Homo sapiens: one gene and its partner. The protein of the gene in region 1 interacts with the protein of each later gene in a pairwise test. Each region holds a gene or a part of one and is shown in the gene's direction. Other genes may lie near its edges.

Region 1 (5,408 bases):
ACTGGTTTATGTATTCACTATACCATACTATGCTATCTTATACTATTTTTTTATCATCATCTTAGAGTGTACTCCTTCTATTTATAAAAAATAAAGTTAACTGTAAAATGGCCTCAGGCAGTTCCTTCAGGAGGTATTCCAGAAGGCACTATTATCGCAGTAGGTGACAGGTCCATGCATTTTATTGCCCCTGAAGAACTTCCAGTGGGACAAAACGTGGAGGTGGAAGACAGTGATAGTGATGATCCTGAGCCTGTGTAGGCCTAGGCTAATAATGTATGTGTTTGTGTCTTAGTTTTTAACAAAAAGTTTAAAAAGTAAAATTAATAATGTTAACAGAAAAAAGCTTATAGAATAGGGATATAAAGAAAGAAAATATTTTTGTACAGCTGTATAATGTTTGTGCTTTAAGCTAAGTGTTACTACAAAAGCGTTAAAAAGTTAAAAATAATTAAAAAGTTTGTACTTTGGGAGGTTGAGGCGGGCAGATCACTTGAGCTCAGGAGTTCGAGACTGGCCTGGGTATCATGGTGAAACCCTGTCTCTACCAAAAATACAAAAAATTATCATGGCATGGTGGCACGTGCCTGTGGTTCCAGCTACTCTGTGGTCCCAGCTACTCCATAGGTTGAGGTGGGAGGATTGCTTGAGCCTGGGAGGCAGAGGTTGCAGTGAGCCGAGATCGCACCACTGCATTGCAGCCCCAGTGACAGAGTGAGACCCCATCTCAAACAAACAAACAAACAAAGCTTATAAAGTAAAAAAGTTACAGTAAGCTAAGGTAAATTTATTATTGGAGAAAGAAACATATTCTTTTATAAACTGAGTGTAGCCTAAGTGTGCAGAGTTTATAAAGTCTACAGTAGTGTACAGTAATGTCCTAGACCTTCACATATATTCACCACTCACTCACTGACTCACCCAGAGCAACTTCCAGGTCTGCAAGCTCCACTCATGGTAAGTGCCCTATACAGGTGTACCTTTTTTTATCTTATAAAAATTTATTATTATGTTATTTGAGGTAGGGTCTCACTCTCTCACCCAGGCTGGTGTGCAGTGGTGTGATCGTGGCTCACCACAGCTTCTACCTCCTGGGCCCAAGTAATCCTCCCACCTCAACATCTTGAGTAGCCGGGAATCACAGGCATGCACCACCATGCCCAGATAATTTTTAATTTTTCTGTGGAGACGGGATCTCCCTATGTTGCCCAGGTTGGTTTCGAACTCCTGGGCTCAAGCGATCCTCCTTCCTCGGTGTCCCGAAGTGCTAGGATTACAGCTGTGAGCCACCGTACCCAGTCATTTTTAATCTTTTATATTTTTACTTACCTTTTCTAGGTTTAGATATGTTTAAATACACAAATACTTATCATTGTGTTACAGTTGCCTGCAGTATTCACTACAGTAACATGAGTTATAGGTTTGTAGCCTAGAAGCAATAGGCTATACCATATAGCCTAGATGTGTAGTAGGCTATACCATCTTGTGTAAGTACACTCTATGACGGGGTCCTCAACCCCTGGGCCACGGACCATTACCTGTCTCTGGCCTGTTAGGAACCTGGCTGCACAGCAGGAGATGAGCCCTGGGCCAGCAAGCATTACCGCCTGAGCTCCGCCTCCTGTCAGATCAGTGGCCAGTGGCATTAGATTCTCACAGGAGCCTGAACTGCCCACACGAGGGATCTAGGTTGCATGCTCCTTATGAAAATCTAACTAATGCCTGTTGATCTGAGGTAGAACAGTTTCATCCCGAAACCATCCCCCCACCATCCGTGGAAAAATTGTCTTCTACAAAACTGGTCCCTGGTGCCAAGAAGGTTGAGGACCACTGCTCTATGATGTTGGGACAATGACAAAAATCACCAAATTACACATTTCTGGAATGTATCCCTGTCCTTAAGTGATGCACGCCTGTAATCTTTCTCTTTAGATTTAGGACTGATGATTTTTCTCTTTAGATAATAATATAGCTAAGACTGAATTTGCTTTTTCTTTCTTTCATACCACGCTAGTTATTCATTTTGAACTTTTTGCCCCCCAAATCCCTCAGTCTTTTTTAAGTATTTATTTATTTATTTAGACAAGGTCTCACTCTATTGCCAGGCTGTAGTGCAGTGGCGCTATCCTCCTAGGTTCAAGCGATCCTCCCGCCTCAGTTTCCTGAGGGAATATAGGCATGCGCCACCATTCCTGACTAATTTTTGTATTTTTGGTAGAGACAGGGTTTCACCATGTTTCCCAGGCTGGTCTCCTGAGCTCCTGAGCTCAAGCGATCTGCCTGCCTACTGGCCTTTTTTCTAGATTTTTCTTTCTTTCTTTTTTTGAGGCAGAGTCTCACTCCATTGCCCAGGCTGGAGTGCAGTGGCATAATCTCAGCTCACTGCAACCTCCACCTCCCAGGCGCAAGCAATTCTTGTGCTTCAGCCTCCTGAGTAGCTATGACTGCAGGCATGCCAGGCTAATTTCTGTATTTTTAGTAGAGACAGGGTTTTGCTGTGATGGCCAGGCTGCTCTCGAACTCCTGGCCTCAAGTGATCCACCCACCTCAGCCTCCCAAACTGCTGGGATTATAGGCATGAGTCACCACTACTGGGCTTCACTGATCTTTTATATATATATATTTTCATTTTAATTTCGTTTATTTCTATTCTGGTCTTTATTATTTCTTTTCTTCAACTAACTTTGGGTTTGGTTTGCTTTTGCTTTTCTAGTTGTTTAAGATGCATCATTAGGTTGTTCGGAGTTTTTCCTCTTTTTTGATGTAGGCACTCATAGTGATAAACTTCACTCTGTATCCCATACGTTTTGGTATGCTGTGTTTCCATTATCATTTGTTTCAAGAAAATTTTCAATTTTCTTCTTCTTCTTCTTTTTTTTTTTTTTTTTTTGAGATAGAGTCTCCCTCTGTAGCCCAGGCTGGAGCGCAGTGGCACGATCTCTGTTCACTGTGACCCTGCAACCTCCGCCTCCCGGGTTCAAGCGATTCTCCTGCCTCAGCCTCCCAAGTAGCTGGGATTACAGGCACCCACCATCACACTTGGCTAATTTTTGTATTTTTATTTTAACTAATTAATTAATTAATTTTTTGTTTGTTTTGAGACAGAGCCTCACTCTGTTGCCCAGGCTGGAGTGCAGTTGCACCATCTCGGCTCATTGCAACCTCTGCCTCCCAAGTTTAAGTGATTCTCGTGCCTCAGCCTCCCAAGTAGCTGGGATTACAGGCGTGCACCACCACTCCTGGCTATTTTTAAAAAAATATTTTTAGTAGAGACCGGGTTTCACCATGTTGGCCAGGCTGTTCTGGCCAACATGGTGAAACTCCTGACCTCAGGTGAGCTGCCTGCCTCAGCCTCCCAAAATGCTGAGATTACAGGCATGAGCCACCACACCTGGTCCTTTTTTTTTTTTTTTTTTTTTTTTTAATACAGGACCTCTCTTTGTCACCCAGGCTGGAGTGCAGTGGCATGAACGTATAGGTATGCACCACCACGCCTGGCTAATATTTGTATGTTTTGTAAAGACTGGATTTTGCCATGTTGCCCAGGCTGGTCTTGAACTCCTGAGCTCAAGTGATCTGCTTGCCTCGGCCTCCAGATTACAGGAGGTGCTGGGATTACAGGTGTGAGCCACGGTGCCCAGCCTCTATATTTTCTTTTTCTATTATATTTATGATGATTGTTAGGGAGGTAGACATTAGCTAATTTGTTTCATCAAGTCTTCAGAATATAGTTCCAATGTATACTCAATACCAGCCCTGTCCAGTAGAAATATAATGTGAGTTAGAAATGTAACTTAAAATTTTCTAGTAATCACGTTTAAAAAGTAAAAATAAATAGGTGAAATTAATTTTTAATATAATAATAATTTTAATGCTATAGCCCAGCATATTCATACATTTTTGTTCCAGCATATAATCAGTATACAAAATTGCTGAGATATTTTACTTTCTTATTTTAAACTAAGTCTTTGAAACCCATGTGTATTTTACAATTAAAGCACATCCCAATTTGAACTAGCCACATTTTAAGTGCTCAGTAGCCATATATTGCTACCATATTAGAGAGTGCAGATCTAGACTAAAAAGTTTAGTAGTAAAACTCAGTCAAGATAATTGGCTTTCATTGAATCTCAAAGGACTTTATTTGTAATCTTCCCTGAACTATCTTTTCCTTTAAATACAACAATGGGATCCTCAGATTAAGAATGACAGAGTTATTAGGAAATATCCCAAGACAGGGCCACATAGTTTAGAATCATGAGCATACTTATTTTACAGCCTGTACAGAAATCTTACAGATAATCAGTGAGATAATCACTGATGCCACCTGGTATGCACCTATTAGGGGGAATAGTACAGTTTATGGCCGGGTGCCGTGGCTCACGCCTGTAATCCCAGCACTTTGGGAGGCCGAGGCTGGTGGATCATGAGGTCAGGAGATCGAGACCATCCTGGCTAACACTGTGAAACCCCGTCTCTACTAAAAATACAAAAAATTAGCTGAGTGTGCTGGCGGGCACCTGTAGTCCCAGCTACTCGGGAGGCTGAGGCAGGAGAATGGCGTGAACCCGGGAGGCGGAGCTTGCAGTGAGCTGAGATTGCGCCACTGCACTCCAGCCTGGCCGACAGAGTGAGACTCCATCTCAAAAAAAAAAAAAAAATACAGTTTATAAAATAAAGACATTGAGTGACCCACAGAATTGAACTTTCTTAGTATGCCATACAGTGTCTTCCAAGTTCTGGCCCCTGTATACCTTTCTAATGGTGTTTTCTCCAGCCATACATAACTGCTTATGCTTGTTTGAATTCATTGTGCTTTTTCACACCTCTGTGCTTTGCCCTCTGGCGTGTTCCTTTCCCTCAGTATCTGCCTGGAAATCTCTAACTCATCCTTCAGCCCCACCTCAAGTAACACTTCAGTGAAGCTTATCCTGCTATTCCTATATTCCATCCCTCAAATGGGCATTTATGCAATCCTTTTACATTGCTGTAGCGTCTTCCACTCACAGCACTTATTACATTATATTATAATTTTTAAATTTTTATTTATTTTTAATTTTTTCCCTTCATCCTACTTTGATCTCATGACTGATTACTACTATAATTTTTAGAATGTAATTACCTTTGGTAGTGCAATCCTCATGATGGCATAGACTGCTTCACTCATCTTTATATTCCTAGCAAGACACCAGGCATTCAAGAAATGTTTGTTGAACTAAATTTTACAAGGAGACACGTAGACATCAGCCAAAGCAGAAAGGGTGCAGTTTCCTTGGATTCTGTTCAGGGCTGAGTTGCTAATAGCTTTGATCTTGGCCAAGTTAGTTAACTTCTCCATGCTTTATTTTAATCAATTATAAAATTAGAGTGTATTACTGGAATTTTAAGGTGATTTAGAACTTTAAAAA
Region 2 (3,500 bases), on another chromosome or scaffold:
ATCAGCAAAATTTTTCCAGGGAAAGACTCTCTGGGGACTTGAATTTCTTTTTAAATAGACATATTTTATAATTTACCAATTCAGAAGCTTCCTACTCTATCTTGAAAACCTTCCAAAGTTCATATAGTAATAGAAAAGCTAATTTTGATAAAGGGAATTTCTCTAGCCTGAATTGGTTGAAACAAGTCAACATAATAATCATAAAAATCTAGCCAAAGAAATTGAGTCCAAAGAAGGTTTAAGCATGCTGCTACCTATTGTTATATATGAATCAAGGGGTATGAAAAATAAGATGTCCAGGCCAAGTGCAGTGGCTTACGCCTGTAATCCCAGCACTTTGGGAGGCTGAGGCAGGTGGATCACCTGAGCTCAGGAGTTCTAGACAAGCCTGGCCAACATGGTGAAAATCCATCTCTATTAAAAATACAAAAATTAGTCGGGTGTGGTGGCAGGTGCCTGTAATCTCAGCTACTCGGGAGGCTGAGGCAGGAGAATCACTTGAACCTGGGAGGTGGAGGTTGCAGTGAGCCAAGATCGCACCATCACACTCCAGCCTGGGGGACAAGAGCAAGACTTCATCTCAAAAGAAAAAAGAAAAATAAGGTGTCTAGATATTCAGTTATTCAATACCTTATTAGAACCACTGCTTCTCACTAAAAAATGTTAATATCACTTACTATTATATACCATGTAAAAAGAAGGCCAAAATTGTGAATGGAATGTGACCTGTCTACCTTACTGTTTTCACACACAAGTCAGAAAGCCCTGAAGTCCTCTTTAGCACAGTTTTATTATGAAAGGGCAATCCCTTCTTACTTGTTCAGTTACAGGGAATATCATAGCAGAAAGATTCCAGGAGACAGAAAGAGAAAGAACATGAAAGTTCTGGGATCATTAATGAAACAAAAGTTCTAACTCTCTCATGTAGCTAGAATAACAACAACAGTGAATGGCTTGATGATGCAGGACTAAGAAAAAATAAGGATTGGAAAATAGTATTCATTCTCTCCTTTCCAAAGTCCTCATGAAGTGAAATTCTAAGCATCAAAGAAAGGGACTCTTCCCGTCACTGCAGACAGCTAAGGGGTATAGGATAAACACTCATAGTGGTTCATGGGAACAGACCAATGTGACATCTGGAGAGGAATCTACCAAGATGTGCGATAAGTCTTGGAAGCCTGTGTTGCATACTTCACAGAAAGGATAACACACCTGTCCCCTTTGGCAGGCTTTGAGGTGCTGGTTGGGAAATGGTATGTTGCTGAGGGGATGGAACTTACGGGAGCAAGAATTTAGACCAGAAAACAATAAAGATAATTTGTCTCCTGCATATAATGTTGAGAGCCAGAATCCTACCTCCCACACTGACCTATCCTAGATAAAAGAGCATCAGGAGCTTGATTTTGCCATGACCATATTGAACTGTTTCCACCCCGGTTCTTGGATGATAAAAACCTGAATTTGCATGAAAACAGATTAGTTTAGATGTAATATTCTTTTGGGAATAGTGCTGAAATTATCAAAATTTTTGGCCAACCAAAGATGGTGTCTGCCTTCTTTCCAGAACCTAGCTCAGTGTCATCTGTGTGATTACCACGCACACACAACTTAATGTACATCCTTGAGCCTCACTTTTCAAGACGTTTAGTTATGGAGAGAATAAAACAAACCCTCTGCTGACCTGTGGAGTCATCTCTGTATGGGATCAAAATCTTGAAAGATTTTAGCTTTTGGTACTATGGGTATTCTTTGAGAGCCTCCACTCCCTTTTTTAAAAAAGATCTGCCAACCCTAGAGACTTCCATTTTGTAAAATTTCAGAAAATTCTATGGACTTCAGTTTTACATGTTAGAAAACCTTTTTAGAAAATCCAAATTATTCTATTTCCAGATTAACAATATAAGAAAAACTGACAAAACAGATGAATATTCACCTAAAATACAGTCATTATCACCAGTGTATTCTGACATATGATTGTAATTATGAATGTAATTTTACATGTTCACATTTTTCATTCCCCATAATGTAAAATAGCACAGGAAAAATTTTATCTCATACATCTTGCCAAGGTGACTCCCCACCTGTAATCAGCTTATCTCCAGAGGGTGGAATTGGAATGCTTGGGTATATGTGGGCCGGTTAGATTCTCTTTTCCTAGAGACCTGCACATAGACACACAGACACACAGAGACACACACATACCACATGGACACACAAAGACACAGACACACACAGACACACGACACACACACAAGACAGACACACCTACACATTCTCTCTACATTTAGACTCACTATTGCTGAAAGACCTAAACACTCCCCGCTAACTCCCCTCAGTCACATGTCAAAGGTGAAGAATAATTCTCTGGTCAAAAGAACTTGAGTCTGGAACTTTTGCCCTCAGCACTCCTACATGCTTCCCCCATTGTTTCTTACATGGGACAAAGTGACAAGGGTGAAGCTCATGCCATACTTCCTCCTCCAAGGACAGCTCAGAATCTGGCCCTGAACTCTTTTAGATATCTTGGTAACTAGGCTGACATGTAGCATTCCTGGGGAATGTATAGGAAGGAGGTGAATGGCACCTATCATTTATTGAGAGCCTTTTATGAGCCAAGCACTATGTGAAGTGGTTTCTATACATTATATGATGTAATCATCATGACAACCCAGTGAGATATGTACTATCATCATCTCCTTTTTACAGATGGAGAAACTGAGGCTCAGAGAGGTTAAGTAACTTGCCCGAGGCCACAAAGCCAGTAGGTGGCATAAAATGTCCAGGACTATTAAAGAATTCTACATATTCCATGCTGTTTACCACTGTGCAGTATTCTGCCTTGCAAATGAGAACTATAAGCCCCACCTCCACACAACAGAGAAGTTAATTCAGGAGTGAATTCTAAACATTTCAACCAGAATTCTTCAAAAATTGTTTCAGGACTAGATGCTAAGTAACTGCTCCTAAAGGATATTTACAATCATAAACACAGTAGAATTTGCATAATTATGCTGCTAAATATACACATGCCATTTTAAATATAACTGCCCTAGCTAGTATATTAGCACAATTATGCAGAAATAGGGGAAGAAAGAGGACAGCATTCTTGGTAGACTTCATTTTTTTAAATGCATCTGAGTACTATGTCAAAGAAAAATGTTAAAAACAGGAACATCAGAAACAATTACCGAAGCACAAAATTATAATCCATTGTCTCATCTATACCATGATGTTATTTAGAAATGCTTAATCTGTGTAAGTATTGTTAAAGAATTTTCAACCCCTTAAAGCTTAACTTCATGAGCACAGGGTCGTATAAAGAACCAATCCAATTTCTGTTGCAATTTCATAATATTAAAAAGCAAATAAATATGAGAGTGTTTTTCATATGAGAGTCTCAAGTGACATTTTACATCGAAGATGTGAAGCTGCAAAAACACCAGTGGGAGGCTGAGAAATCGGTGGCTGTGCTTTCTGTTGGCACTGCTGGGTTCTTATGC

Evidence for each region. Proteins that work in one complex are often made in the same cells at the same time.
Region 2: the proteins of TEX11 (region 1) and KIAA1217 interact in a two-hybrid assay, tested with the Homo sapiens proteins (one large-scale study listed by BioGRID and IntAct).

What each region holds. Positions count from the first base shown.
Region 1 is NC_000023.11:70,897,861-70,903,268, reverse strand, and holds part of TEX11 (testis-expressed protein 11), read left to right. Parts: intron 1-5,408. UniProt on the Homo sapiens protein: Regulator of crossing-over during meiosis. Involved in initiation and/or maintenance of chromosome synapsis and formation of crossovers.
Region 2 is NC_000010.11:24,474,638-24,478,137, forward strand, and holds part of KIAA1217 (sickle tail protein homolog), read left to right. Parts: intron 1-3,500. UniProt on the Homo sapiens protein: Required for normal development of intervertebral disks.